Linked DNA regions of Homo sapiens: regions 1 and 2 are each linked to region 3. The links come from fine-mapping of genetic effects on gene expression. A gene starts in region 3. Each other region holds a variant in brackets. All regions are shown on one strand. Distances are between the middles of the regions.

Evidence for each region.
Region 1: its variant is fine-mapped to the expression of THYN1 in sigmoid colon (GTEx, PIP 0.91).
Region 2: its variant is fine-mapped to the expression of THYN1 in subcutaneous fat (FUSION, PIP 0.95).

Annotation. Positions count from the first base shown.
Region 1 is chr11:134,345,057-134,355,783 of GRCh38, reverse strand. It overlaps GLB1L2 (galactosidase beta 1 like 2), which reads right to left. Exons shown (of 19, transcript NM_001370461.1): 4 at 10,655-10,727; 5 at 8,351-8,459. Among named protein-coding and RNA genes, the nearest start is that of GLB1L2, 18 kb to the right of the region's middle. RefSeq lists a silencer at 6,097-6,156. The variant G/C (reference allele first, on the strand shown) is at 3,831.
Region 2 is chr11:134,299,113-134,309,839 of GRCh38, reverse strand. It overlaps GLB1L3 (galactosidase beta 1 like 3), which reads right to left. Exons shown (of 20, transcript NM_001080407.3): 10 at 2,632-2,716; 11 at 77-214. Among named protein-coding and RNA genes, the nearest start is that of GLB1L2, 28 kb to the left of the region's middle. The variant C/T (reference allele first, on the strand shown) is at 5,624.
Region 3 is chr11:134,249,210-134,259,936 of GRCh38, reverse strand. THYN1 (thymocyte nuclear protein 1) reads left to right here and starts at 6,585. Exons shown (of 7, transcript NM_014174.3): 1 at 6,585-7,097; 2 at 8,629-8,807; 3 at 9,594-9,662; 4 at 10,017-10,109; 5 at 10,675-10,727. The coding sequence starts at 7,055. ACAD8 (acyl-CoA dehydrogenase family member 8) reads right to left here and starts at 6,369. Exons shown (of 11, transcript NM_014384.3): 1 at 6,228-6,369; 2 at 3,289-3,389; 3 at 2,680-2,849; 4 at 1,313-1,422; 5 at 853-929; 6 at 192-329. The coding sequence starts at 6,336. RefSeq lists an enhancer at 6,455-6,824.

The sequences.
Region 1 (10,727 bases), 96 kb before region 3:
GGAATCGTCAACATAGTTTGGACTTCAGGCTGGAAGCTAAAGATGGCAGCATATGAAAGCTGCCAGAGGACTATAAAGCCTTGGATGCCTGGGGGAAAAGAATTACAGCAAAAGAAAATGAAAAGCATCTAAGGCCACAAGAAGAAGCTGGGGTGAGACTCTGGGAATTAAAGACCCTTGAAAGCGACCAGGGAGGGGAGGTAGGGAGGGAAGCACACACACAGATACAGACAGAACACATGCCCAGAAAATATCAGCTCTTAAGTCTTCATGTTGGGCTGATCTCCGGGCTTAGGGGCCCACTAATTAGTGAGGGTTCCCCTGAAAACATGCAAAAACTGAAATAGGTGTTTGTTTTTTCAAAAGCCCAATGTTCAACCAAAAAAACACAAACATAAAAAGAAACAGGGAAGTATGACTCATCAAAGGAACAAAATAAATCTCCAAAAGCAGTATCTGAAGAAACACACACACCAGACTCAGTAGAGCAAGATCTATAACAGCTGTCGTAAATATGCTCAAGGAGCTAAAGGAAACCAGGCAAATGATATATGAAGAAAAAGAGAATATCAACAAAGAAACAGAGATTATTTTTAAAAGAACCAAAGGAACTTCTGGGGCTGAAATATACCATATATAAATTGAAAAATTCACTAGAGGAGTTCAACGGCAGATTCAAACAGGTAGAAGAAAGAAAAGCAAACTTAAACACAGGTTATCAGAAATGATCAGGTCTGAGGAGATAAAAGAATAAAGAAAAGTGAACAGAGCCTAAGGGGCTTACACAACATCTTCAAGCAGAATAATATATGAATTATGGGTTTCTTAGAAGAAAAAGAGAGATAAAAGGGCAGGGAGATTATTTTTACAAAATAATAGCTGAAAACTTCTCCAATTTGAGGAAAGACAAGATTATATAAATCTAAGGAGCTCAAAAAATTCCAGAGAACCACTCAGGGACACTCTATAATCAAACCATTGAAGACAAAGAGAGATTCTTGAATGCCAGAAAAAGTTTTGGTCACAGGCAAGGGATCCTCAATAAGACTATAAAGGATATCTCAGCCAGAAAATTTTCAGGCCAGAAGGCAATGAGATGATATAGTCAAAGTGCTGAAAGGAAAAAGTGTCAACTTTTTTTTTGACACTTCTATATCCAGCAAAACTCAAAAATGAGGGAAAAATTAAGAAATTCCCAAAGTAAAGCTAAGAGAGTTCATTACCACTAGACCTTCCCTAGAAAAAAAACACCTAAAGTTGAAATGAAAAAATGCTAGAGAGTAATTTGAAGCTATATGAAAATATAAAGTTCTCCAGCAAAGATAGACACATAAAAAATATAAAAATATTATTATAATTTTTCTTTACAATGTGGCTTTTTATTTTCTACAAGATTTTAAAAGACATAAAATAATTATAAATTTAAGTTAATGGGTACACCCAATATGAAGACATAATTTGTGACATCAATAAAATAAAGTGGAAGGGCAGAACTGTAAAGGAGTTTTTGTGTGCAGTTGAAGTTAGGTTGGTATCAATTTAAAACAGAATGTCACAACTTTAGGATATTATATATCCTTTACCTTATCCCAAGGTAAAGGGAATCGTTATAAAAAAGTGTCACTATAAAAAAATCAACTAGATACAAAGTAAAGCAGTCATAAAGGAAATGAGGGACAAAAAGCTGTAAGACATACAGAAAGCAACAAAATGGCAAAAGCAAGTGATTCTCTATCAGTAATTACTTTGAATGTAAACACATTAAACTCCCCAATCAAAAGACATACATTGGCAGAATGGATTTTTAACAAACCGATATCCAACTATATACTATCTACAAGACACTCACTTCAGATCTAAGGATATTTATTGGTTGGAAGTGAAAGGCTGGAAAAAGATATTTTATGCAAACAGTAATCAAAAGAGGAGGGGTGGCTTTGCTAATATCAAACAAAATAGACTTTATATCAAAAACTGTTACAAGAGACAAAGACATGATAAAATATATATAATGATAAAAGGGTCAATTCACCAAAAGGATATAACAATTATAAACATATATGCACCAAATGCCAGAATTCCAAAGTATATGAGCCAAACAGTGGCAAAATTAAAGGGAAAAATAGACAATAATAGTAGGAGACTCAATATCTGAATATCAATAATGGATAGAGTAACCAGACAGAAAATTAGTAACCAAATAGAGGACCTAGACAATATTATGGACCAGTTGGACCAAACATATATATACACAACATTCCACCCAAAAGTAGCACAATACACATTTTTCTCATGGGCACATAAAACACTCTCCAGGATAAACCATATAGTAAGCCAAAAAAACAAGCCTTAATAAATTTTTCTTTTTTAAAAAAAAACAGAGTCTTGCTCTGTCACCCAGGCTGGAGTGCAGTGGCACAATCTTGGCTCACTGCAACCTCCATCTCCCAGGTTCAAGTGATTCTTGTGCCTCAGCCTCCCAAGTAGCTGGGATTACAGGTGCCCGTCACCACACCTGGCTAATTTTTGTATTTTTTAGTAGAGAATGGGTTTCAACATGTTGGCCAAGCTGGTCTCTAACTCCCGACCTCAAGTGTTCCACTTGCCTCGGCCTCCCAAAGTGCTAGGATTACAGGCATGAGCCACCACACCCAGCCTCAAGCTTTAATAAATTTAAAAAATTGAAATCTTACAAAGTTTTATTTTTCCCAATCACAATGGAATGAAACTAGAAATCAATAACCAAAAAAGTCCTGAAAAATTCAAGTATGTGGAAATAAAATCTTCACCAATAGTCCAAAGAGGAAATCACAAGAGACATTAGAAAATATATTGAGGCCAGGCGCAGTGGCTCACGCCTGTAATCCCAGCACTTTGGGAGGCCAAGGCGGGCGGATCACCTGAGATAGGGAGTTCAAGACCAGCCCGGCCAACAAGGGGAAACCCCGTCTCTACTAAAAATACAAATATCAGCCGGGCGTGGTCACGGGCACCTGTAATCCCAGCTACTTGGGAGGGTGAGTAATGAGAATCACTTGAACCTGGGAGGCGGACGTTGTAGTGAGCTGAGATCATGCCACTGCACTCCTGCCTGGGCGACAAGAGCGAGACTCCATCTCAAAAAAAAAAAAAAAGAAGACATATTGAGAAAAATGAAAATGGAAATAAAATTATGAATTACAGTGAAAGCAGTGCAAAGAGGGAAATTTTATAGCTATAAATACATTTAAAAGACAAAAGGTCTCAAACCAACAACTTAACTTTATACCTTAAGAAACCAGAAAAAGGGAAACAAACTAAAAGGTAGCAGAAGTAAGGAAATAATAAAGATTAGAGCAGAGATAGACAATGAGAGAATAGAAAAACAATAAAGAAAAATTAATGAAACCAAGAGTTGGTTATTTGAAAAGATCAACAAAACTGACAAACTGCAGCTAAACTAAGAAAAAAGATATGACTCAACTAAAATCAGAAACAACATGAGGCTATTACTGCTGATTTTACAGAAATAAAAACGATTACAGAAGAGGAATATGAACAAATTGTACGCCAACAAATTAAATATTAAATAACCTAGATGAAACACACAAATTCCTAGAAATATATAATATGCCAAAACTAAATCATGAAGAAATATAAAATCTGAACAGACCTATAACTAGTAAGGACACTGAATCAGTAACTAAAAACCTCCCAACAAAGAAAAGTCCAGGACCAGATGGCTTCACTGGTAAATTCTACCAAATATTTAAAGAAAAATTAACGCCAGTCTTCCTCAAACCCTTCCCAAAAATTGAAAGGGAAGGAACACTTCCTACCTTATTCTATAA[G/C]GTAGAATACAGTAATAAACTCTTTTCACTTTTCTTTGGGAATTTCTTAATTTTTCCCTCATTTTTGAGTTTTGCTGGATATAGAAGTGTCAAAAAAAGTTGACACTTTTTTCTTTTATTACAAACAAAAGACACTATGAGAAAAGAAAACACGGACTAACAGTCCTGATGAATACTGATGCCAAAACCCTCAACAACATGTTAGCCAACTTAATTCAGCAGCATATTAAAAGAATTATAAACCATGATCAAATGGGATTCATTCCTGTAATGCGAGGATGATTTGCCATGTGAAAAGCAATCAATGTAGGCCAGGCATGGTGGCTCATGCCTATAATCCCAGCACTTTGGGAGGCTGAGGCAGGTGGATCACCTGAGGTCAGAAGTTTGAGACCAGCCTGATCAACAGGGTAAAACCCCATCTCTACTGAAAATACAAAATTAGCTGGGCATGGTGGCAGGTGCTTGTAACCCCAGCTATTCAGGAGGCTGAGGCAGGAGAATCACTTGAACCTGGGAGGAGGAGGTTGCAGTGAGCTGAGATAGCGCCATTGCTCTCCAGCCTGAGCAACAAGAGGGAACCACCATCTCAAAAAAAAAAAAAAAAAGAAAGAAAAAGAATCAATCAATGTAATATACCGCATTAACAAAATTAAGAGGAAAAACCACATGATGATCCCAATTGATGCAGAAAAAAGTGATAAAATTCAACATTCTTTCATGATAAAAAACACTCAGTCAACTAGGAACAGAAGGAAACTACCTCAACATAGTAAAGGCCCCATACAGAAAGCCCACAGTCAACATCATATTCACTGGTGAAAGACTGAAAACTTTTCCTCTACGATCAGGAACAAACCAAGCATTCGTGCTTTCAGCACTTCTATTCAACACGGTACTGGAAGTCCTGCCAGAGCAATTAGTCAAGAAAAAAATAAAGGCAACCAAGTTGGAAAGGAAGAAGTTATCTCTGTTCACAGACAACATGATCTTAAATGCAGAAAACAGTGCACATCCCCACACCCCTAAAAAAAACTATCTAGCTAATAATTCAGTAAGCTTGCAGGATAAAAAAAATCAATGTGCAAAAATGCATTGTTTTTATCCACCATCAGGGGACAATTCCATTTACGACACCATCAAAAACAACAAAATACTTGGGAATACATTTAATCAAGGAGGTGAAATATTTGTACACTGATTGTACATTACAAACAAAATACTAAAAGAAAATAAAAGACAGTGGAGCAAGATGGAGGAATAGAAGGCTGCACCGTTCATCCGTCCTGCTGGAACACGAAATTTTAACAGTGATCTGCACGCAGAAAAGCACCATGACAAAAACCGAAACTCAAGTGACCCGTCACAGTACCTGGTTTTAACTTCATATCACCAAAAGACGCATTAAGGCAGGCAAGAGAGACAGCCTTACACCACCGATGCCACCCTCTCCCATCTCCCAGCGGCAGCCAAGTGGTGAGGAGAGAGGATCTGTGCATTTGGGGAAGGGAGAGCACAGTGACTGGGGAACTTTACATTGAACTCAGTGCTGCCTTGTCACAGCACAGGATAAAGCCATGCTGAGCTCAGCCAGCATCCACGTAGACGGAGCATTTGGACCAGCCCTAGCCAGAGAGGAACTGCCCACCCTAGTGATTGGAACTTGAGTTTCTTGGGAAGCCTCACCACCATGGGCTGAAGTGCTCTGGAGTCCTAGGTAAACATGAAAGGCAGTCTAGGACACAAAGACCGCAATTCCTATGCAACTCCTGGAGCTAGGATGAGCTTACAGCCAGTGTACTAGCACAGCGCATGGCCTAAGGAGCCACCAGCTGGCATGGCTAAGGGAGTTCTTGCACATCCCTCCCCCAAGCCCAGGTAGCGCAGCTCACAGCAACGAAAGTGGCTCCTTCCTTCTGCTTAAGGAGAGGAGAGCAAAGAGTAAAGAGGACTTTGTCTTGCATCTTGGATCCAGCTCAACCACAGTAGGAAAGGGCGCCGGCAGAGTCAAGAGGCCCTCGTTCCAGGCCCTAGCTTCCAGACACTTCTAGACATACCCTGAGCCAAAAGGGAACCTGCTGCCTTGAAGCGAAGGACCCAGTCCTGGCAGGTCCTGTTAAGGAATTGATCTCCAGAAAGTAAAAAGAATTCCTATAATCAACAACATAAAAACAAACAACTAGATTCAAAAATGAGCAGAAGACTTGAATAAACATTTCTTCCAAGATATGCAAAAGACCAATCAGCACATGAAAGATGCTCAACATCACCAGGGAAATGCAAATCAAAACCACCATGAGATACCACTTCACACCCACTGATGGCTCTCCCCAGATAAACAGGAAATAACAAGTGTTGGCAAGGATGTGGGGAAATTGCAAAGCTTGTGTATTGCTGGTGGGAATGTAATTTGGTGCAACTTCTGTGGAAAACGGTATGGCAATTCCTAAAAAAAACTGAATGTAGAATGACAAGTTGATCCAGCAATTTCACTTCTAGGTATATACCCAAAAGAAGCGAAAGCAGGGGCTCAGAAAGGTATTTGTACACCCATGCTCACAGCAGCTTTATTTACAGTGGCCAAAAGGCAGAAGCAACTCAAACGTTCGTCAATGGATGAAGGATAAACAAACGTGTTATATACATGCAATGGAACATAATTCAGTCTTAAAAAGGAAGGAAATTCTGACACAGGCTATGACACAGATGAACCTTGAGGGCGCTGTTAAGTGAAATAATCCAGTCACAATACTATGTGATTTCACTTATATTTGGTAGCTAAAATGATCAAATGCATGGAGACAGAGAGTAGAATGGCTGTCAGGAGCTGAGAGAGGGAAGAATGGAGGGTTTAACGGCACAGAGTTTACATTGGGGAAGACAGAAAAGGACTGGAGATAGACAGTGGTTGCAATAGACTGTGTTCTCCCAAAATTTACATGTTGAAATCCTAACCCCCACTGTGACGGTATTCAGAGGTGGGACTTTTGGGTGGTGATTAGTTATGAGCATAGAGTCCTTGCCAACAGGGCTAGTGCTCTTATAAGAGGGACCTCAGGGAGCTCTCTGACGCTCTCTGCCATGTAAGGTTGCATCAAGAAGATGGCCGTATATGCCCTGGAAGGGGGCCCTTCCAGACACCGAATCTGCCAGTGCTTTGTTCTTGGACTTCCCACTCTCCAAAACTGGGAGAAATGAATTTCTTTGTCTGTAAGCCACTCAGTCTAGGTGTTTGGTTGTGGCAGCCTGAACTAAGGCTGTGGAGATGAGCACACAACAGTGTGGGTGGACTCAATGCCGCTGAGCTGTACATTTCAAAATGGTTAAAATGGCAAAGTTTATGTTATGTATACTATCCCATAGTCACAAAAATTAAATAACTATGTGATTATTTAAATATGTTAAATAATAATAATTATGTTATCGTTTATTTCAAAAAGATGCATTGGTGACCCGCTGCACGTCTGCAAGTGCCTCTGAGCCTGCTCCCAGGACGGCCATCCTGCTGCCCACCCGACTCCTACAACCTGCTGATCCCCAGCTTCCCAGCAAGATCTAGGCTAATGACTTCCTAGTTCCTTGCTTCTGTCATGGTTAAGGCTGCCGGATTTAGTAAACAAAAATACCAGACATAAAGTTAAATTTGAATTCACAACAAATAATTTTTTAGTGTAAGTATGACCCATGCAATATTTGGAATATATTTACACTAAAAAATTATTCCTTGCTTATCTGAAACTCAAATATAACTGAGCATCCTGTGTTTCATCTGGCAGTTCCCTTTGATTTATGTGTGTGGTGAGTATTCCATACCACTGACTTGAACTAATTTTTTATTGATGTACTAATTTCTCAATGCCGTTCTTTCTGGTTTTACACAGCAACTGGGTTGATTTTTCCCATTCCTGCTTTCCAAAGCTTCCAATTATTATATAAAATATTAAGGTACTTCCTCCCCCAAAACGTACTTTAACGCATGTTTTGAATAGTAAGTGTGTACCATGCAGCACCTTTTTGGTAGCAGAGGGAAGTATCTCGTAAAGTCAGCGAAAGGAATTTTATAATTTATAAAAAGTCCTGCAGTCTTATAGGCAAAGGTTAATCCACATGTGCTCCACCCTGTGCAAAACTGAGCCGCAGTGCTACTGGGACACTGGTAGATAGATGGGTGTTCCCGGCTATCACCTCATCCCTGTCTCTGTGGAACCATGGAGATGCCAGTGGATGCGTGTTCCCGGCTATCACAGCATCCCTGTCTCTCCAGTGCTGTATGTGGCAATGTGAGCCCTTACATCTGTCTGTCCTTTCAGTAACGCACCCAAGTGAGACAACACTGAAATGCACAGATCTTTCCAAAGACAACTCTTGCAAGCCCCTCAGTTACGAGTCTCGGACGGTGAGGAAGAGCCTGCTCGTGTGTTCAAAACACTGGAGGACCCTTGGTCTGAGAACTAACCAAGGATGATCCACGACCTAGAGGAAGACAGACCAAGATCAAAGAAGACCCCATTTGCTTGTACCTGGAGTGGCACCACCCTGGACATCAGGTGGTCAAAATAAAGGTCCACTGCTTCGGTGAAGCCCTTGTAAGTTGTCCTCAGCCTCATGCCAGGGTCTTGGAGTAGCCAGCTTGAAGTGTAAACGGGGGAAAGGAAGGATGTTAGTGTCACAGTGGGTTTGCTGTGAGCAGGCTGTTGATGCGTGAGAAGGGAGAGGCCCCCCAGTGCTCCAGAATGACCTGTGCCCTCCTCCACCCCACTGAGCCCAGAAGTGGGGAGACAATGCAAACCGATTCTGGGGCGAGCACCCACCCGCACTCCTGCAGCTTCCCTCCCCAAGGACACAGCCTGGTGGAAGTTCATTTCCAGCTCCACAGCTACAGGGCCTGGCTGCCAGCAGTGAGAAAAGCTTTTCACAGGACTCCAGGCCTAGTTTTCAACAACTTGCTCTGTGATCCCATTTCAAAAAGTGAAGTCAAAAGGGTTAGGAATCACTGAGGCTGTGGAAGGAGGAGACACAACCTTCTAGCGTCACCCCAAAAAACAAGCCTGACAGAGACTGCGAGGGGCTGAGCAGGAGGCAGTCCCCATCCTTGCCAACGTGGCTAACGCCTTGGCATCAGTGGCGCACAGCCCAGAGCAGCAGGTGAGCAAGAGTTGAATTCTCCCTCCACCCTGTTGCTATGATCCCAAACTCCCCAGAGGAACACAGCAGCGTGGATTGGTTCCAAAGCTGGAGTCAGGGCTCTTCCTTCTCACTTCAGGTTCTGAGAAGACACATATTTTCTAACAAAAGGCTCTGAGGCTCCTCTTGCCCTGGTCTGGAAGTCCTAAACAGGGTCAGGAAATTATCCCATTTCTGTGGGTCAAACAAGGGGTGAGGAGAGAGCAGTTTCCTCCAGACCGACACCCCCACATTCTAACCCCACCTGACAGGTTAGCCTTCTCACTCACGCCCGGACGCCCCCTCCGCAGGTGTGCCCACATGCCCCTCTCATGCATGGCCAGGTGCCACATGGGCGGGGTGAGAAGGGGGAGTCTGAGTGCCACAGCTCCCCACTGCTTCTAAGTTAAGACTGTTAAACCCTTCGTCCTCCTGTGCCCGGCCCCGGCTGAGCCGAGGAAATCGCTGACGGTGGCACACAGCTTTCTAATCCACAGGGATGGGAGAGGCTGCCCTGGCTGTGTTCGTGACTAGGGTGAGCCTACCAGGCTGGATGGATCAGTGCCTGAGAAGTGGCCCTGGGTAGTGGAGACAGAAGCTATGCCCCCGAGGGAAGGGCGGGTCATGCTGGAAACCAGGAGGAAAAGAAGCCCAGGGCTCCCCAGGGACCAGGGGAGGGGAGACGGCTTGGGGACAAGGATCAGCCTCTTCCCTGAGGCAGTCTGGGTCTAACCACCTGGTACACTGGGAGGCTGAGAAAGGTTACACCAGTTAACAAGAAAATCTTAAAGGCCACAATGTTGAGGATGAGGAATGAATGAAGTCCCAGCTGATTCCTGTCCAGATTTCCACTCCAACCACAGAACACCAAACTCAGCCAAGACTAGCACTGGGAAGATGACACACGTGGGCCGAGATAGGAAGACAAAACCATAACAAGAATTTGTTTCTCTTATACTTTATCAAAATACTTGGACTTTTCAAAATATGCTTGGTAACATTCCTAAGAAAGAGATAGGGAAGGCCGGGCGCGGTGGCTCATGCCTGTAATCCCAGCACTTTGGGAGGCCGAGGTGGGCAGATCACAAGGTCAGGAGTTCCAGACCAGCCTAGCCAACATGGTGAAACCCTGTCTTTACTAAAAATACAAAAATTAGCTGCGCGTGGTGGCACACACCTGTAACCCTAGCTACTCGGGAGGCTGAGGCAGGAGAATCGCTTGAACCCGGGAGGCGGAGGTTGCAGTAAGCCAAGATCACACCACTGCACTCCAGCCTGAGTGCCAGAGCAAGACTCTGTCTCAAAAAAAAGAAACAGACAGGGAAGGTCGGATTTTTCCCATACTGCAGACACGCAGGTGAATGACCTGCCAGGACTCACAGCTCCACAGCAGAGTCCTGAAGCATGAGATGCCAGGAGGGCCAGCCCTGCTGCTGCCTGTCACACAAGCAGCCCATGCATGGCTACGTGAGGGCACTCACTGCAGCATCACTGAAAGCGATCCCCTCTGGGTGCTGCTTTTCCTGAAAAGGAAATTCAGTACAGAATGGGAACTGGAACACAATTCAGTACAGAATGGGAACTGGAACACAGAAACAAACCAGACCTATGTCTGTGAGCTTTTTGCCACAGCACACAGGACCCTTCACAACCCCGCTTACCTGGGCAAGCCCCCGAGGTCCATCTCACTGCAGATGTAGGGGCCTGGACGCAGAATCACCCACAGCCCGATCT
Region 2 (10,727 bases), 50 kb before region 3:
ACAGGCTTCCGGAGCCTCCTCTGTAAAGCCCCAGCACCGCCCATGCTGGAGAGGCTACTACACCAGCGACACTTGCCATAGCTGGTGACAATGCCCGAGTGCTTCCCGAAATATGTGGCCCCGTTCATGAAACCAAAGTTGGTTCCACCATGGAACATATATACATTGAAGGAGATCTCATATTTGATGAATTCAGACACAGCATGTTCAACCTCTGCAAAGGGGAACATGAGAACACAGAGAATGTTAGAAATTAAGAGGAGACAGAAGCCTCTGGCAAACTCTTATCCTTTCCAACCCCACTCCACAATCAGTTACAGTAACTCCTCGCTTCACGGCTATATACATTCTTGGGAATGGAGACTTTAAGTAAAATGATATAAAAAAAAAAACAATTTTTCTCTCAATTTTATAATGAAACAATGTTGAAGAAAACAGTATTATATGAGGATATGCTGTACATCATTTTGTTTAGTTTCCAAGAACCTATTGATGACGTTAAAGACCTACTGCAAATGTTTTATCATTCAACCTCTACAAAGATTCCAACAAAAAAATAGGCAGAATTGGCCAGAACTACTCTAGGACACCGAATCTTGTCAATCCCAAGAGATTTTTGAACACTTTTTTTCCAAAATATTGACATAATTTGACTCTAAACTACATCTATTAAATAATAACCTAAGAACCCTCATGTCACTTAAATATCTAATTTTCCTTAAGTTTTTTGAAATCATACATATAATTAGTACACCCTCATTACTACCTTCCAGTGAAATGTTTCTGGGAACACTGACTTGGAAACACCGCCATAGTCCACAAGTGGTTGCTCTTAATCTTTAGCCACAAAACTTCCATTTTGTACTGTGTTTAAACAGCTGCAATCATCTCTCCACTGGCCACAGTGGGAAGAAGAAGGTTAAAAGTCATTTAGAGTGGGAGTCAATTCTGGCTGTGCTCGTTACTATTTGTATGACCTGGGGCAACCTATTTTCTTTCTCAACGCCACTGCTTCCTGATCTGTTAAATGAATGTATTAATTCCAGCTATATCATGGGACTGATGAGAAAATTCATTGATGAGGTAATATATGTGGAAAAAAGGCACAGTGCCTGCCATACAAGAGACCAGAAAAGTTTTATTTGGTAGTGGTGGTGGTGGTGTTGGTGGTGGTGGTGGTGGTGATGATGGTGGTGATGGTGTTGATGGTGATGGTGGTGATAGTGGTGGTGGTGGTGGAGGTGATGGTGATGATGGTGATGGTGATGGTGGTGGTGGTGGTGATGGTGATGGTGATGGTGGTGGTAGTGGTGGTGGACATGGTGGTGGTGGTGGTGGTATTTGGTGGTGATGGTGGTGGTGGTATTTGGTGGTGGTGGTGGTGGTGGTGGTGATGGTGGTGGTGGTGGTGATGGTGATGATGGTGGTGGTGGTGATGGTGATGGTGGTGATGGTGGTGATGGTGGTGGTGGTGGTGGTGGTAGTGGTGATGGTGATGATGGTGATGGTGATGGTGATGGTGGTGGTAGTGGTGGTGGTGGTGGTGGTGGTGGTATTTGGTGGTGGTGGTGGTGGTGGTGGTGGTGATGGTGGTGATGGTGATGGTGGTGGTGGTGATGGTGATGGTGGTGGTGGTAGTGGTGATGGTGATGATGGTGATGGTGGTGGTGCTGGTGGTGGTGTTGGTGATGATGGTGATTGTGGTGGTGATGTGATGATGGTGGTGGTATTGTTGCTGGCATTATTGTTGGTGGTAGTGATGGTATTATTGTTGGTGTTATTGGTGGTAATAGTGGCATTTTTCTTTTGACTTTTTTTCTATTTTTCAACCTAAAACAGGCTTTTCTCAGTTCCCAAGTATTTTTCAATGTTTTTCTATACTTCAGATACAAGTGGCCTTGTTTTCATAACAGCTCTTTCGAAATATCTTCTGTAGACACAAATGCCTATTAAGTAAACGACTGCCAGGCATTGCTCTAAGTGGCAGCACTTGATCCTCACACCAGCCTCATGAGGTTGGTTTTATGATAATCCTCACGTTTGGATGAGGTCACTGAGAATTAAAATGAAGGAAGCCTGCATGAAGCTAGCGCATGGCTAGCGCTGCAGAGCTGAGATTAAAACCTGATCTCTTTGGCTCCAAGATCCATGCTCTTGGCTATCGCTGCATGTTGTCCCCTGACTATTATTAGTGCTTAGTTGACAATGCCATAGAGAGGGCCTATGCACTGCTAGAGATGATTAATGTTCCACCTTCCTCAGAGATGTCACATTTTCAGAGAAGCTTCGGTGACCACCTAACCTTACCTGCGCAGGTCTTTCTTCTGTCTTTTCTATCACTGCACCCTGTTTGTTTGCTTCAAAGTATCCACCAAACATGGAACTACATATTGATTGTTTTACTCTGTAATGATCTGTGGACCTCACTAACTTATACTCTGTTGGGGGTGGGAACCATGTAATTTCTATCCACCAGAGCATCCTCAGGGCCTGGCTGAGTGCTTGTATGTGAAAAGTTGCATGAATATCTACGGCTGATCAAGTGAATCAATTAGCAGAGAACTGTATGAATGAGTTCTCATGGGACCTGGGGCCATCTCTTCCTGGAGTCAAACACTGCAAAACACTCACCCTTTGCATCTTTAACATGGTGCTTATCTCCCCATCTGTCGAACCAGCCGACCCAGTATTCCATAATCAGAAGGGGCTTATCTCTCTAAAAACAAACCAAAGCAAATACTAAGTCTGGCAAAAAACAAAAAAGAAAAATCAGAAAACCTGAATGCAATAGATGGGAACTAAGGAACTCATGCGTTTCTCCTTTTTCCCAATTCAGAGCTTTCCCGTTTTGATCCAGTATTTCTTCCCCCACGGCCCTTGGCCGTCATTCACAGCTCTGGTTCCTCCACTCCTAAACGTCCATGGTCTCCAGCTTCATGTGCCTCCCTACTATACCCGGAAAGCACCATCAGCAATTTCAACCCTGTCTCACCCAAGGCTGGTGTTGAAAGAATGGGTTTTGGATACACGAGGACCTGACCGCAATTCCTTATGTAGAAACTCAGATGCCACAGGCTTTCAGCCTGACACCTGCATTCCACTTGTAGCCTAGCATTTTCAGTGCTGCTGAATAACGTAGATTCTGTTTTTAAAAGGTGACACCTCCTCTACAGTAGGCCTGGCTGTTGCTGTGCCATGGATATTAAAACGGAAGATCATAGCTGAGCTTCTTCTGGGTGATATGTCAGCCACTCAGCATGCATTTTCAGCTGCACTCCTGGAGTCCTCTGGCATGCTGCTGCTCTAAGATTGTCTCACTCTAAGCCCAAAGATCTGTCAACCTAGGACTTTTGTTAGCTGCTCCCTGGATTTGGATTATGATGTTTTCCAGATCCTATGTTCTCTTCTACTTTGGTTTCATTTCTCATTTCCTGCATCCTTCAAACACTTCCATAGAAAAGATGAGTGGAAAATAAATATTCTGAGTCCTTAAATGTCTGGCTATCAACACAATTAATATTTAAAATTATTAATTGGGTATAAAATTCTAAGTTAAAATTCATTTAGCCTCAAATTTTAAAGGCATATGCCATTGCTTCCTATTATCCAATATTTTATAATCCTATGCCATTCTAATTGTTTTTGCTTGGCATGTAAACCTGTGGTTTTTCTCTCTGTAGGATGCTAATTTCACAATTTAGGTCTTTTTCATCACTTACTGTGCTTACTATTTGAGGTACACTTTTCATCTGGACATATAGATACTTCAGTTAAAGGAAATTCTTATGTTATTTGCAATTTCCTTTCCTCCATGCTCTTTGTCCACTCTTTTTGCAACCAGTATTAATAAGATGTTGGGTCTCCTACAATACTCCTATAAGACGTTTATCTTGTCTCTTTTCTGTTTTGTGGGCTTATACTAATAGTAATATTAGGGAATTTGATCATCTTTACCTTCCAACTTCTATATTTAATTTTTAATTTCAAATATTAGATTTTTAATTTCAAAGAGTTGTTTTTGGTTCCCTGATTGTCCCTCTTACTTAACAGCCCACTCTTGTTCAGGTATAATCTTATTCATATCTCTATGCATATTAATAAGCCTTTTTACTACTCTATTTTGTTGCCTGAATTAACTCCATGTTCCCTGATTTCCATTTTCTTCTTTATTTGTAATTTAATTATTTTCTCTTTGTGAAATTTTATTAAATAAATACAGATCCTTAATTTTCCATTTGTATTCAAGAGGAAAGACTGACTTCTGGTGTTAAAATTGTACTGTGGGCTTGACATTCTCCTCCTGGAAATCTTCCAAATCAAAATAAGGACTGAGAAATGGAAACACAAACAACATCCTCTGTGAAGCTAAGAGTCATCTGAAACTTCAAAATATAAATGAGGAGGAAGAAGCGCAAAAGCATTGAAGGTCTATCAGGGGTTCAAAAAACGTAGAGAGAGAATGCTCTTTGTCGAAGATTTTAGGAAAGACTAACAGCACAAATTTCTCCTAAGTAAGAAGCATACTCTATAGTGCAATACCAACCATTTATTATCAGTTACAGAATAGGGTGCACAAGCTGGTGAAGGGAATGCACTTTACATAATTCAGTGCATCAGAAGCTTAGAAGGACAAAATTATGGAAGAATCACAGATAAGAACTATAAGGAGGAAGAAGTTGCTGCTTGTGAGGCATCTGAGAGCAGTCCTGCATCTATACTGGCTCCCTGGGAGGAGAGAAAGCAAAAAGGAAGATGGGTAAAGATAAGAATTCATCCCTGCCTACAGCATTGTGCCACTAAGATACATTGTTATTATGCCACTAAGATACATTGTTAGCGCAGTCGCATGCGGGCTCTCACAGCAACTTCTCTTGAGTCCTTGAGCCAATAAGAACTCATCTCCATCAAAGATGAGTAATAATAAAAAAGAAACAACAATAGAATCTACATTTAAAATTCTAATAAAAAAGAGTTTTTTTCTTTTTCAACAGGGAAAGAAATTAGAGGAGGAACACCAAAAACTTTCTATAGCATAGGTCAAAATTGTGACCCAAAAATATTGTTATAAAGTTAAAAACCCCAATGAAACAATCACCTCTATAAATGGAGAGCATAAAAAGAGAACTAAAAGTACTCAAGGAAGACATGATAAGGAAATATAAGGAGCTAAAATATTACCTAACAAAGATTTTTTTTAAGGCAGATAAAATAGAAAATATTAAGTCCAAACTGGAAGCAGCTAAAAGGAAAATAAACATTGTGAGGGACATGAAAAGAAAAGGAGTGAAAAGTGAGCACAGTTAAAATGAACAGAGAGTAGAAAGAATGAGAAGGAAATGGATGCAGGAGATGTGAAAGTAAGACAGAAGAAGTTTGCATTACACATAACTTGTGTCCCTAAAGAGAATAAACCAAATAAAAAAATTTTTTAACATATTTAAAGATATGATCAAAGACTCACAATTTCCAACAATCATGATCTATGTTATTTGGACGAACCCACTCATTGAGGATTTTTACAAAGTTAAATCAAATACAGTATCACCATAGATACAGCTGAAAAGAGAATTCGTGTATATGAAAATAAATCAGAAGAAAGTATCCAAATAGCAGCATAAGTAGA[C/T]AAAAATGTACAAACTAAAGAGATACCCAGCACATTTGAGAAGGTTTAATGAATTTAGCTGGAATTCCAGGATGAGAGGAGTGAGACAACACAGGAGAAGCAACATTTGAAGAACTACTACCTGGGAACACACACATTCTAGAAGCCCGACAAACTGGAATAATAAATAAAAAGACACTCAGAAAGAGACATAGTTCAACTGCAGAAAACAAAAAAAGAAACAAAAAATTCTTAGTAATAAAGGAGAAAAGAAAGCCTGACAGAAGCCCTCCCCATCACAGCAGTGAAGTCAGCAGACTGTGTGCTGAAAGAAAACTGCCACATTAGAATTCAGAGCCGGGAAGAGACTGAAGCCTGGAAACAGAGAGTCTGCCATAAACAGACATCACTAAAGCATGTACTTCAAGCAGAAGAAAACTGATCCTGAGTAGAATCTCCAAGATATGAAAAATAATAAAAAGCAAAAAGATAAATATTGGGCTAAAACTGAAGGAATATTGATTGTATAAAACAAATACATGATATTTTTAGAGTTTTAAAAAGATAGAAATCAAATACAAGAAAAATCCAGAAGATGCATCTGATGGAGTGGCCAGAGTCAGTGCTTGCCCTGAGGCACTTGTACAATCCAGGCGGAGAGCAGAACTTTAGACTGCAGGGGACTCAGTACTTACATTAAAATTTCAAGGATGACTTTTAAAAGATAAAATCAGACTCTGTAACTCCAGAATGACATAGGAAAAAACAGAAATTGATTTTTTTAAATAGTCGAATCCATAAAAAGAAGCCAAGATTGTAAAGAAAAAGAAAAGAAACACTTAAAAGCAGGCACATAATCAGATGGCAGGTTCAACTTCAGTCTAACAAGAATTACATGAAATATGAATGACTGACAGCTCCAAATAAAAGTTTAATTGTGTCAGACTAAAATAAAAATATTCAACTAATTTCTGATCTCTAATAAGAGAGATGTCTAAAGAAAAATGTAGAATTACAGCAAGATTAAAACCCAAATGAGGATATAGAAAATGATACACATTCAAATATTAATCAGAGAGGTCTGGCATGGCAATATCAATGACAGACAAAAGTGACCTTAAGACAAAAAGCAATACTGCATACAAACAGGATGACTCCCTAGTGATAAAATTTCATGTCCATGAAGATAAAACAAGTCCACATTTACATAGCCTCAAAATACATCAAGCAAACTTTGATAAACTTGCTAAAGGACAGGTAAAATACTAAGGTCTACTGGTAGAAATATGCAAATCTGCAATTATGATAGAAATATTAACACATCTCTTTCAGTGACCAATACAACCAGCCAAAAAAATCAATTGGAAATAGAAAACTAGAATAACACAATAAATAAAATTGACATAGAACTTAAACAGAATACTGCACCCAGTACCGCAAAATACATTCATTACAAACACACAGGGCATTTACCAAAACTGACCATTGATAGGACATAAACACAAACAAAATTAAACATAAAAAATAAAGAATCACACCTAAAAATTGAAAACAAATGAATCTAACTCTACACCAAGTTGGTAAAACAATTACATAAAACAAAGAAAGTATTCCATGTAACCTTAGTACATAGAATTTTCACTACACATTCTCTGTGTGATATACCTTAAAGATAAAAGAAAAACCACAGAAATCTTTAAGATCATTAGATTTTTCTTATTTTCAGTAATATTATCAGTGTTATTTCAAACCTATTATGAATATATTATAGAATTAAGTGAATAACAAAATTGTGAATGTTGTTATCAACTATGATGTCCAAAGTCAGAGAAAAAATAAAAATATAAATCAGAAAAGTTAAATATAACCTCTATAATTCTAAATTTGTATTTTTTAAGAAATCAATGAAACCACAGTTTTCTCCTCGTTTAAAACATGCCAATATCCTGGCCCTACACTCTGAAAATGCTTAGAAGTAACAGCAATTTGATAGTAAGCACAGCTTGTATTCTACAGAAGCAACAGGGTTCTTAGGAGAAATCGCTGTTTCTGGGCTGAGGATTGGAAATGTATCAGGTGAGTCTGGGACATTGTATTTGGCTGGAAACCAAGTAAACTATGAAAGACTGATGGGGTCACGTCAGAGGAGAGAGGAGCCAGGTGGAAGGTGCTGCCAGCAGGCCAGCGAGAAGCCACTTTAAGCTTCAACAACGTAATGATTAAAATTGATAAGAAGGCATTAAACATATTAAAAAGTCATGAATTAATAATCAAAGAAAACAATTTACAAAAGTTTGAAAAGGTACAGAGTATGTTTTCTGACCAGCGAAATAAAGGAAAAAAATAGAAAAACTCCGTATGTCTGAAAATTTAAAAATTAACTTCTAAACATACTCATAGGCCAAAGAAACAATCATATTGAATACTCACACTAGTCTGAATTACAGTATATCAAATATACCAAATATAAAACTCATGAACTAATGAGAAATCCATTCCTTAAATGTTCATAATAAAACATACAGATAAAATGTGAAGGCTAATTACCCACCTCAAGAAATTAGAACAGCAAAATAAACCAAAAATAGTAAAATAAATAAAGGAAATATAAACCTAAGGGTAGAAGCAGTGAAATTGAAATTAATTTGCAATAGAGACAACTTAAAAAAAAATCGGTTCTTTGAAAAGAACCAACATGCTTCTGATGAGAATGTTAAGACAGAGTAAAAACGAATCAATAATTAAGATCAGAAATGAAAAGGAAAGACCAGCACAAATGATACGGCCATTAAAAACAAGAAGATAGTGTGCATAATTATATGCCATTATATTTTAGTTTGAGTGAAATGGACATATTCCTAGAAAAACTGTAACAACTACATTTACTCAGAAGGAAACAGACTTCTGAGTACAGCTCAGAGATATAGCAGTGGGAAAAACATAAATCCCATCCTCACAGCGAGGACAAAACTTGAAAAACTGTAAATTCATGGCTTCTTGGGTCCATCAGAGAACCTAGGTCACAGAGCAACCAAATACCTAAAATCCATGGAAAACCTGATGCCTGCAGGAAGAAGCTGGACCCAAGCCACTTGCTTACCTGGGGCTAGATCCTCTAATATAACACAAATAGATCATATTAAAGAAGTGCTGAAGACAGTGTGGGCCAGCGTGAGAGTCTGAAGTCAAGGGAGCCGAGACGGATGGCGGCTGACACCCTGATGCTGGCTTTAACTCCCCAAGTCTACCAGCTGTTCTGAGGGGAGATTCGGGAGAATCCCGGGCAAGTCTCTGTTGCAGGCTGAATTGCGTCCCCCAGCCAAATTCACACGAAGGCCTAACCCTCAGTACTGCAGAATGTGACTGTACTTGGAGACAGAGCCTTTAAAGAGGTAATTAGGTAAAAGTGAGGCTGTTAGTGTGGGTCTTAATCCCATGTCACCGGGGTCCTCATAAGAAGAGGAAATTTTGACACACCAGGGTCTCGTGTTCACGGCAGAAAGACCATGCGAGGGCACGTTAAGAAGGTGACCATCTGCAAGATAAGGAGAGGCCTCAGAGGAGAACAGCCTGTAGGCGCCTTGATTAAAATGTGGTCAATAGGGGCCGGGCGCGGTGGCTCACGCCTGTAATCCCAGCACTTTGGGAGGCTGAGGCAGGCGGATCATGAGGTCAGGAGATAGAGACCATCCTGGCTAACACGGTGAAACCCCGTCTCTACTAAAAATACAAAAAAAATTAGCCTGGCGTGGTGGAGGGCGCCTGTAGTCCCAGCTACTCGGGAGGCTGAGGCAGGAGAATGGTGTGAACCCAGGAGGTGGAGCTTGCAGTGAGCCGAGTTCACACCACTGCACTCTAGCCTGGGCGACAGAGCAAGACTATGTCTCAAAAAAAAAAAAAAAAAAATGTGGTCAATAGGATGGGCCCTAATCCAATATGTCTGGTGTCCTTATAAGAAGAGGAGATTAGGACACAGACACACACAGAGAAGAGATCATGTGAGGGCACAGGGAGGAGAAGACAGCCGTCCAATAAGCCAGGGAGAGAGGCCTCAGAAGAAACCTACCCTGCCAGCACCTTGATTTCAGACATGTAGTCTCCAGAATGTGGGAAAATAAACATCTGCTGTTTAAGCCACACAGTCTATGGTCCTTTGCTATGGCAACCCTAACAAAGTAACACAGCTTCCTTTCTGGTGCTGGCTGAGGGGAGAGAGCCACCGCCACTGCCAGACCTTCTCCCAGCCCATCTTCTCTAGGGAACAAAAGCCCCAATCAGCTGAGAAACAGCACAGAAGCTGTCACTTAAGGACATCTTAACTGGATAAAATCCATTGCATCTGGGAAAGGGGCAGGGGATGCACTATCCTTGGGAAAGGAGGAACACATGCTAGGATCAGATCTGCCGCTAGAAGAAGAGCTGGGTAGGAGCACCTGCAAAGGCCACACCCCTCAGACCCACAGACAGCATCTGCTGGCAATAAGGCATAATCAGAACATCAGGGGAAGCCTTTCTCCCTCACCAGCAGGCTAACCAAGCTGGAGAAAAAGTAACACATACTATAGCTGAGAGATCCGCAAGCAACAGATTCTCTGTGGGACTCAATGCAAAGGCGAGACTCAGAGGGGAATGCAGACACAGAGAAAACAACCTCTGCCAAACCAGCACTTGCCCTTGACACAAGGTACCACCAGAAACATTTGAAGCCCATGATGCACAAAGGATAACACAGCAACAACAAACCCCACAACCAGCCTAACTCCAGACGAGGGGAACACAAAATCCCACATGGCCTAGCAGAATGAAAGGCAGGCTGATCTCCAAGACAGTATCTATGTCCTATGCATGATGCGCAGTTTTCAATAAAAAATTATGAGACATACAAAAAGGCAAGAAAAGAACACACTTGGAAGAGATAAAGCAATCATCAGAAACAGATAAGACACAGATGTTGTAACTATCTCACAAGGAATTCAAAATAACTATGATTAATATACTTAAGACTATCATGGAAAAGGAAGACAGCATGCAAGATCAGATAGATAATTTTGGCTGAAAGATGAAAACTAAGAAAGAAGCAAATGGAAATACTAGAAATCAAAAACATAGCAAGAGAAACGAAAAA
Region 3 (10,727 bases):
CCCCAGAGGCCTAGTGTTTAATAATGCCCTGTTGTATTTCATATGCTCCTGTTGAAAATCCTAATAGAAGCAACTGCTTCAAAGGTAGGTTAGCAAGTATGCAAACCTGTTTTCTGAAATAGAGCAGGAGTTGGGCTGGCAGGTGGCAGAGTCTCATAACCTGAATTGTTTCCTGTCCAACAGCCACTCACCTTTTTCTCCTTCTTGCCAAAGCTGAGGCCAGGGGTCCCCTTCTCAACAACTATGCATGAGATGCCCTTGGGGCCTGGTCCTCCTGTTCGGCACATGACCACATAGATGTCTGACTCACCAGCACCACTGATGAAGGCCTGTGGGGGTAAAAGGGGTGCAAAAGGACCAGGGAATGCTTGAGTTCTCACAGCGTCTGGGAACACCACTGGGTCCTCCTGACAATAAGGTCCAATGGCACAGAGACTGACAATAAGGTCCAATGGCACAGAGACTGACAATAAGGTCCAATGGCACAGAGACTGACAATAAGGTCCAATGGCACAGAGACTGACAATAAGGTCCAATGGCACAGAGACTGACAATAAGGTCCAATGGCACAGAGACTGAGGTGAGGTAAAAGGTCGCTGCAGTGACTGCAGATCAGAGAGGCAGTCCAAGAGAGTATAAAAAGGATAGACAAAAGTCAACGAAATGATCTGGAATCAGATTAGGAGAGATACAAACAGTGAGAATAAAGAAAGAGAAATGGGTCAGAGGTTCTCTTCCCAACACATAAAAATCCTATGGGAGTATTAACCCGCGGATGTGAAGGAACCAGAGGATGTCAGGAGGAAGCTGGGAACAATCTCCAAAGTGCTCTGGGAGGACGCACGCTAGTACCTTGGAGCCATTGAGGATGTAATGATCTCCCTGTTTCTTAGCGGAGGTCAGAAGAGAGGCAGCATCACTCCCACTTCCTGAGGAGGGATCAAAAGGCAGCAGAGAGAAGGTGAGAAAGTCAGTGAGGTCGAGGGAGCCCAGCACAATTCTATCTTCTAGGAAATCTTCTCTAAACAGACCCTGCTCAGAGTGTGTCACTGCAAAACCCAAGTGGCCAAAGGAACTCTCTGTACTTGGTGGAAACTGCTCATACCAGTCAGGCCACTGCCTACCTCCCAACACACCAGATAGGCTTCTTGGTCCTTGTGACATCAGGTCACAGGACTCTATTACTCCTCAACCAAACAGCTAGATAAACAGTGGCTCGACATGTCAAGAGGCTGGAAGGAGTGCTCGGTAATGCCATCTGAGCAGGAAGCATCTCTCCCTGCTATATCTCAGTGCAGTGTGGCAAATTCACCTGGTTCAGTGAGGCAGTAGGAAGCAAACTTCTCCATGGTACAGAGCGGTGGGCAAAATTTGTGCCTCTGTTCCTCATTTCCGAAGCTATCAATCATCCAGGCACACATGCTGATAGGTACACCAAGAAGAAAAGACAATGACAGAAATAAAGATGGAAAAGAAAAAAAAATGGGGGAGAAGGGGAAAGAGAACAAAGGGCAGGGCAGTGGAGTAAAGCAGAAGAGTGGGAAGGGGAGAGTCACAATTGGGAAGACTCTTTAAAGGCAAACGGTGGATTAAAACATATTCCTGGAATAAGGACTACCCAGAGATAACCAGGCTGAGGTACTTCTCACCAGCACGTTTGTACTACTTCTAGTTAGGTTACACGAGCCTCTAAAAATCAGAGTTATATGTGCTTTCTATTAGTAGTTTCTATTACTTCCTCAAATCACTGGCAGTTCCATCTTTGGATTGAGGAAAAGGGTGAGAGGGGCCGGGTGCGGTGGCTCACATCTGTAATCCCAGCACTATGGGAGGCCGAGGCAGGCAGAACACAAGGTCAGGAGTTTGAGACCAGCCTGACTAACATGGTGAAACCCCATCTCTACTAAATATGAAAAAAAATTAGCCAGGTGTGGTGGCACGTGCCTGTAATCCCAGCTACTCAGGAGGCTGAGGCAGGAGAATCACTTGAACCGGGGAGACGGAGGTTGCAGTGAGCCGAGGTCATGCCACTGCACCCTAGCCTGGGCAACAGAGCGAGACTCTGTCTTAAAAATAAATAAATAAATAAAAGGGTGAGAGGACCCTGATCACTCTATTGGAGAAGTCTCCTGGTACCAGCTCAAAATAAGATTTCTGAGAAAGCTGGCTGACCTGATTCCCTAAGCAATACACAGGATGACAGAATCAAGTCCAACAGGCAGCAACAGACCTAGCGTGTACTTATTTTATTTATTTATTTTTTTTGAGATGGAGTCTCGCTCTGTCGCCCAGGCTGGAGTGCAGTGGTCCATCTCGGCTCACTGCAAGCTCCGCCTCCCGGGTTCACACCATCCTCCTGCCTCAGCCTCCCGAGTAGCTGGGACTACAGGCGCCAGCCACCACACCCGGCTAATTTTTTGTATTTTTAGCAGGGACGGGGTTTCACCACGTTGGCCAGGCTGGTCTCAAACTCCTGACCTCGTGATCTGCCTGCCTTGGCCTCCCAAAGTGCTGGGATTACAGGCACGAGCCACTGCGCCCGGCCCCTAGAGTGTACTTTTAAGTCCAGTTCCTTGAGGACACTCAGCTTCAAAAGATCAATCTTTTTCCTACGAATCTGAACTCTCACAGTCAGCCCGAGTGAGCACTTCATTGTGCCTTCCAAGCTTGGGCACTCACTTGTGGATGCTTATATAGGCTGTGGTGCTGGTGCAGCCTGTAGCCAAGGCTTCAAAAATGACAGAGGTATCAAGACGTGACAGCCCAGACCCGCCCACATCTGTTTGTATGTAGACCCCTCCGAAGCCTAGCTGGGCTGCCTTCCGCATCACATCCACTGGGAACAGCTCCTATGTACAAAAGAGAGCAGGGTGATCAGCAGCTGATTCAGAGACGGCCTTCCTTTTAGAGGGCACAGTGAGGGATTAGGAGGCTTGCACATGCGACAGCGTATGAATTCTCTTAATATGCCTGTTTGTCATCTTACAGTGGTTATCAGTTAACATGGGTCCTGTAAAAACTTGTTCTGGCATTAAGAAGTTTCTTTTTATTATCTATAGAACTGCCTTAGTTTTATATCCAAATCTTTATTCAACTAACAAAAAAAAAGTTATGTACAAGATGATCAGGATGCCTTCTAGGAAAAATCATCCACTACCGGTATTCTCACTTGCAGTAAGAGTTGGTAAGTGGAGGAGACATTTAACAATTACATTATCAGGAGACAAAGATAAAGGTCTGCCTGAGACATCTGTTGTTAGAACGTCTAAGCACAAGAAAAACGCCTACCTTCTGGTCCCACTCTGCCATATTTGGAGCCATCTCTCGGGCAGCAAAGTCAAAGGCCACTTTTTGAAATTCTTTCTGCTCTTCATTAAGTCCCATGGAAGCTGTGGGCAGGATTGCATATACTGTTCTAGGACAGGGTCAGTGTTGCCAACAAGGTGTTGCCAACAAGAAGCACCACGAAGTTGTGAAAGTGGATCTACTGTAGTATTTCCCATACACGGTATAGCCTTTAACAGCTAGAGAATGGCAGCTTCTGTCGTTATTCCACTTGTCATATGGAGAAAGGACAGTTCTAGCACACATCCAGATCAACCTAGAACAGGATAGGGGACTTCCAGACATCTCTTATCCTAGCACTTAGTAAAATGCAGTTGTAGACCTAGAGGTTGAGGCCACAGTGCTAGAACTTTGGTCATTATAACTGACACTGAAGAGCACTATGGGCTGGGCGTGATGGTTCACGCCTATAATCCCAGCACTTCAGGAGGCCGAGGCGGGCAGATCACCTGAGGTCAGGAGCTCAAGACCAGCCTGACCAACATGGAAAAACCCCGCCTCTACTAAAAATACAAAAATTAGCTGGGTGTGGTGGCGCATGCCTGTAATCCCAGCTACTTTGGGAGGGTGAGACAGGAGAATCGCTTGAACCCAGGAGGCAGAGGTTGCAGTGAGCTGAGATTGTGCCATTGCACTCTAGCCTGGGTGACAGAGCAAGACTCTGTTTCAAAAGAAGAAAAAAAGAAAAAAGAGCACTATGGGAAGACTATGGCGCCACACTTGGCAATAATTTACTTCAGTGCCTACAAGCGATGCAGTCCTCACAGAAGAACACAAGGGCAGGTGCCAGAGTCTGTTCCTTGGGGCAAATCTGGGCATCAGTAATGGCTGGCTATGCGAGCCTGGAGAGGGCACTGCTTTCTGTGATCAGTACTCTCATTAAAATGGGAAAGTCAGAAATGAAGAGTTCTGAGGATTAACGATTAGGCTGCCTTGAGAAACTCAGAGCAGAAACCTATGTTGGGTATTACCCTCAGGAACAGAGTTAGGGATAAACAATTCATGGTTCTCTGACTGGGGTCAGGCCATTTATTCACACAATTTTGTACAAGGGTTGCTGTTACTGTAGACCATGGCTCAAAGATCATTTCCAAAAGAATGTTTATTGGGTGTTTACTAGGTAGCAGTGCTGGGGTTACAAAAATAAATATGATCCAGCCAGGCGCAGTGGCTCATGCCTGTAATCCCAGACTTTGGGGAGGCCAAGGCAGGTGGATCACTTGAGGTCAGGAGTTCAAGTCCAGCTTGTCCAACATGGTGAAACCCCGTCTCTACTAAAAATATAAAAATTAGCTGGGCATGGTGGCATGTGCTGTAATCCCAGCTACTTGGGAGGCTGAGGCACAAGAATTGCTTGAACCCGTGGGGCAGAGGTTGCGGTGAGTTGAGATCGCACCACTGTACTCCAGCCTGGGCAACAGAAAGAGACTCCATCTCAAAAAAATAAATAAATAAGATCCATTCACACAAAGGATGACTATTTCAATCCTAGCAAGAGCTCATTAAATGTTAACAAATCTTCTTCTTCTGTAAATGGCTACTTCCTAAAACAAATAGTTCAAGGAACCACAGGCTTAAGAAATAAATCTGAGTTGCATTCTAATGGAAGGAAATAGTTTTATGCAAATCATATGCATAAGTAAACACAAGTTCCCAGAAGGAAATACAGTATAAAAACAAAACAAATACCACCACTCATGAACTTTGCCAGTTACTAGCAGAGTTCAAGATGCCAATACATAGTTACTAGCAGAGCTCAAGATGCCAATACATATACACTAAAAAGGTAAAGCTAAATAGAAAAACACTCCAAATGAAATGGGAAAAGCCTTTGACTGCAGAGCCACTCAAGTGTAAGCAAGATGCAAACAATAACAAAACCCACCTCTAAATAATTCCTTATCTGCTTCGGTATCAACCAGGGTAATCTGGGTTATCAAATTCTAAGCGCTAGGCCAGGGCAGCACCTCTTGAATGAGTTTTAGGACATTCAGAAGAAAACAGTATTCTATGCCTTACTGTACTTTATAGATCTGATATCTAAGGGACTTATTCTGTTGTAAAGAAAACTGCCATTTATTTAAAATAAATTTAAAAATATTTCAGAAGAAAAAAGTGTTTATAAACATTCTTGGCAGAGAAGTCACAAACTGGCCGGGTCTCCACCACTCCTCGCTACATTCAAATTACTGTTCAGAGCCTAAAGACACTCAAGTTTGTCAGCTCTGGTAGAGTTTCCCACTGGCAATAATAATTATTTTTCCTGCATGAGTTTCAACACTAAAAGTGTCTTATAGCCAGAGGTGTTAAGATACCAAATCTTTGTGTGTGAGCAAATCTTGTATGACCTGGAGTTCTTGTGCAGTTGTCACCATCAGCACCCAGCCAGCTTCTTATATTCTCACTGCTTTTATGACCTACTGTTATGATTAAAAACCAACCAACCCAACAACAACCAAGCCCCAAGTTTCTTCACTTCTCTAAGCATCCGAGGGTGACCGGCCGCAGGAGGACCCGGGCCGGAGGGGAACCTGCGGGGGGATGACCGGCCGGAGGGGAACCTGCGGGGGGTGACCGGCCGGAGGAGGACCGGGGCGGGGGTGACCGGCCGGAGGAGGACCGGGGCGGGGGTGACCGGCCGGAGGAGGACCCGGGCAGGGGTGACGGGCCAGATGGGGACCCGGATGGTGGTGACCGACCGGAGGGGGCAGCCAGGCCGGGGGTGACCGGCCGGAGTAGGGAGCCAGGCCGGGGGGGTGACTGGCCGGAAGGGGAGCTGACGCCGGGGTGACTGGATGGAACGGGGAGACTGCAGCCCCTCGCGGACATATGTCCGCCGGGGTTCTGGACACCTGTCCTACTGCCCGCCAGGAGATCCTTACGGTCGATGCAGGAGGTCAAGCTCCGGTGGCCGGTCTGGACGAGGACCCGGAGACCGCCGGGCAGGCAGCCGAGGCGCGCCCCGAAACGCCGGCAGCCGCTCCACAGCATAGCCGCCGCAGCTCCGCGTTCAGCTAAGAGTCTGAACGCCTTCGACCTCCGTTGCGCTCGCACTGGCGGGACCTGCGACCCGGCAACGCCTGTCCCACTGCACCCTGGGGGTTGTAGTCCTCCCACGAGCCCTAACAACCCAGGTGCCAGGCGGGCTCCCAAGGGGACAGGACTACAATTCCCAGAAGTCCTCGGGGCCTCGGCGCCGCAGAGATGCACCGCCCACCAAGCGCCGCGGGGGTCGCGCTGCACAGCCTGCGGCGCAGCGGAGGCGGACCGCAGTCGAGTCTGCAGAGTGTTGGGTCTGTAGCCAGCAAATTACTTCATCATCTAGATTATCCATTCAGTTGATCCTAATTAGCAAGGATAACAAGGTAACACAAGGCTTACTTATATTCACCCAACAAAAGTGTCTCTGTGGAGCCACTTCCCAGTGAACTACATACTGAGATAGGGGTTCCTGGATGAGAAGGACCAAGGACAGAACCGAGAAGAGTTTAGGGGCAGGTTATGCGAGATGGAAATGGCGCAGATAACGGAGGGAAGGATTTGAGGGCTCAAACGTAGGCGTCTGTGTTTCGCAAAAGTTGGAGACGTTCTAGGCTGCCTCTCGTTGCCTCCATCTCGCTCTGCGCGGGTTTTGGAGGACATTAGCATTCTTTCTTGTATCTCCGTTGATTCCAGAATCGTCCGCACTAAAGTCCCCTGCAGCGTGACCATGTCGAGACCCCGGAAGAGGCTGGCTGGGACTTCTGGTTCAGGTGAGCTGCCCCTAGGCTGCACAAAGGCAGCCCAAGAAAAAACTTTTCTCGAAGAGCCTGTTTAGTACTCATTTTTCACTCCCTGCTTTTTGAGAACCCTTTGTGATATTTTTACTCCATTATCCTTAATCACTCTCCATCTTCTTTACTTGTCTCACCAAGCTCCTACCTACAGTTCCTTTTTCTTGTTTATTCAGGCAATGGTTGTTGTGCACAAAGACTCTTTGAGATACCAGGTGGCGTGCTAAAGAATATAAAGCGCCTGCTTGCGGGTGAACTGCAAACAGATGTGATGGGGTTCAGGAAAATGGATTGTTAAGTTTATGGAGGGAGGAATCACGGGGAAGGCCTCGAGAAGGATGTGGAATTTGAGCCCAGCCTTGAAGAATGGGAGACTTTCCACGGGCAAAGTTTAGTACTAAGAAAACGTGATGTCGTTTTTATAATCACAAAGATGGATGGCATTCTAAGTGGATGGAGGAGGAGGAACATTGGAAGGTACAGAAAGTACCTCTTTTGGGAATGACAGGGGTTCCAGATATACTACAGCACATTGCAGTTATTTATCAATATGTGGTGTTTGCAGTGGGCCTGTTAACTCCTAAGGGGCCATTAGGAAACTAGGTTAGGAAGGTATGCTGGGTTCAGAGCATTAGACAGCCATAAATGGTATTTAATGACAATTGATGTAGGGACTTTGACTAAATTCAGAGGCAGTATAGTCATTAAGTAGCTTCAGATAGACCTCAGTGACAGGTGCTGACCTCATATCTTGATTCCACCATTACTGGATGTGTGATCTGGAGCATGCTTCCCAGATGAAGAGTAGAACATCTCACAGGTTATGTAGATTAACCGAGTTAGGGTTAGGGTAACACATAGACCTTGGGCCCTGTCATATAGTAATTTAACAACTTAGCTACTGAATGCCTACTGTGTTCCAGGCACATTCTGATTGTCTTGGGATGAAATCGAATCATCACCATTTTTCTACAATGTCCTGAATGAACTGTTTCTTTCAACTTTTATTGGCACCTTCAAGGAGCAGAAAGGAGATGGGCCAGGAGCCACAGTGAGCAAGAAGGAAAGACGTATGAGATGAGAATAATAATGCTTTTATTATGCACTTATTGTAATGCCAGGCATTGTCTAGGCCCTTTGTATTACCTCATTTAAGCTTCAAAATAGTTGCAAGTAGGTGCTCAGTTTCCTCTTTCCTATGCAAAGGCATAGAAGAGAGAGTGAGGAAAGGAAAACATGTATTGACTACTGTCCGGACCTTTAATCCTGAACAACCCTGTAAGGTGTTCTTACCCTATTGAATAGATAATCCAGAAGATACCCTGTAAGGTAGGTATTCTTGTCTAATTTTTATAGATAAGGAAAGCTTCTTAACAGTAAGATTAAGTTCCTACAGCTGGTAATGGATCCATGATTTGAATCCAGGTCTGACTCCAAAGCTAAGCTTTTTCCATTATGAAACATTGCCTTTAACAAGCATGATCTTTTCTTTTTGCTTCTCCTATTGCAGACAAGGGACTATCAGGAAAACGCACCAAAACTGAGAACTCAGGTGAGGCATTAGCTAAAGTGGAGGACTCCAACCCTCAGAAGACTTCAGCCACTAAAAACTGTTTGAAGAATCTAAGCAGCCACTGGCTGATGAAGTCAGAGCCAGAGAGCCGCCTAGAGAAAGGTGTAGATGTGAAGGTGAGACCCTTGACCTGTCTCCAGTCCCTTCATGGTGTTTTTTAAATGAGAAGTGAATATGGGACACCATAGGGTTCCATCCCCAGCTTCTTATCTTTGAAGGGAAGGAAAAAGGTAAAAATGAATAAAATCGGCAGGGTTTATTATCATCAGCTGGTTTGTGAACCTGTGTATCTAGGGCAGGGGTTGGCTAACCTTTGCCACAAAGGGCCAGATAGTAAATTTTGTAGGCTTGTGCGTGTTACAGTCTCTGTTGCAACCCTGCCCTTGTAGCAAGAGAGTGGCCACAGATAATAAGTAAACAGCTGTGGCTGTGTTCAAGTTCAACTTTATTCACAAAATCCAGCATGGGGTTAGATTTGTCCTGAAGGCTATAGTCTGCCAACCTCAATCTTAGGTTACCTTTCTCTGAACACCTGCCATGCTCCTAGGTGTCTCCCTGCCAACAGTTGATGTATATTTCAGGGAATTTAATATAGCCTGGGAAAAATATAAGCAGAACTATTATAAATATAAAGTAAAATGCAAGTAACTAGCAGATTACTTTATCACCTAGATTATTCATTCAGCTAATCCTCATAATTAGCAAGGATAACAAGGTAACACAAGGCTTACTTACATTCACCCAGCAAAAGTGTCTCTGTGGAGCCACTTCCCGGTGAACTACATACTTCCTCTATAGCCAGTGGCCCCTCTCATTTTAGGGGAAGGAACTGTCTGCTTCCATATGTGCTTACTAACTGGCCAAGGATTGTTTAATGATTGAATTTATTTCCTCTTGCCTAGTTCAGCATTGAGGATCTCAAAGCACAGCCCAAACAGACAACATGCTGGGATGGTGTTCGTAACTACCAGGTAAGAGGGTAAGGAGGAGGTCGCCTGAGACCCAGGTGGGATGAATGCCTGCCTCCTCCTCATGACGTACTCAGTAGCAGAACCTCTTGGCCAAGGTTGCTTTTTCTCAGAAGCAAACCTGATAATGTATTAAAAAATGCCTTAAGTACTCTGCATGAAATTTTCAATTGGCCTGTGTTCTGGCCAATGTCCTGGTAAAAGTCTGGGTGTCCTGGCAAAGGGGAAGGACTTTCTAATGAATTGAGGAGTTGCAGACAAGAATCACCCATCTATTAAAAGCAGACTTGATTTCTGCTAAAAGCTAGTACTTTCCAGCTGGTGGGAGGATAGTTACTCTTTCTTCTCCCGGGACAGGCTCGGAACTTCCTTAGAGCCATGAAGCTGGGAGAAGAAGCCTTCTTCTACCATAGCAACTGCAAAGAGCCAGGCATCGCAGGACTCATGAAGGTTAGTTGGGCAGGTTTTGGTGTGAATCCCTTTTCCTCCAGGGAGACTAACTTAAGTAGATATAAAGGGATATACCTTAATTAGGCAACAAAAAAGTACACTCCCCCCCACCCCATCCCCCTTTTACAGGAATAGGGAAAAACTGCCCTGGCCCCTTCCTATCTGATAACTCAAAGCAGGCCTTCATTCAGGTCCGACTAGCACAGACTTCACTCCACCTCTAAGTCTTGATCTCACTCGAAAACAGGCCTGATGATAGCTCCTCCAAGCTTATCAGGATAAAATTATTAACTGTGCAGAGGGGAAAAAAACAGTGGTACCAGTAATAACCTTTGCCATTTGTTTTTAGAGCATGTTTTTAAGACTTTTGTAAAAACAGAGTTGATTTCCTAGTCTATATATTAGACTATATATTGTTTCCAAATATCTGAGCCCCCATTGGCTGTACAGCAAGGCAGATGGGTTAAGAATGTGCAGGGAAGAAATGAAAGTTGGATATGGATTAAAAGATTGGCTGTGGAGCTGACTGCAGGCAGATGATTCAAAGCTTTTGTTTTGGTTTCAGATCGTGAAAGAGGCTTACCCAGACCACACACAGTTTGAGAAAAACAATCCCCA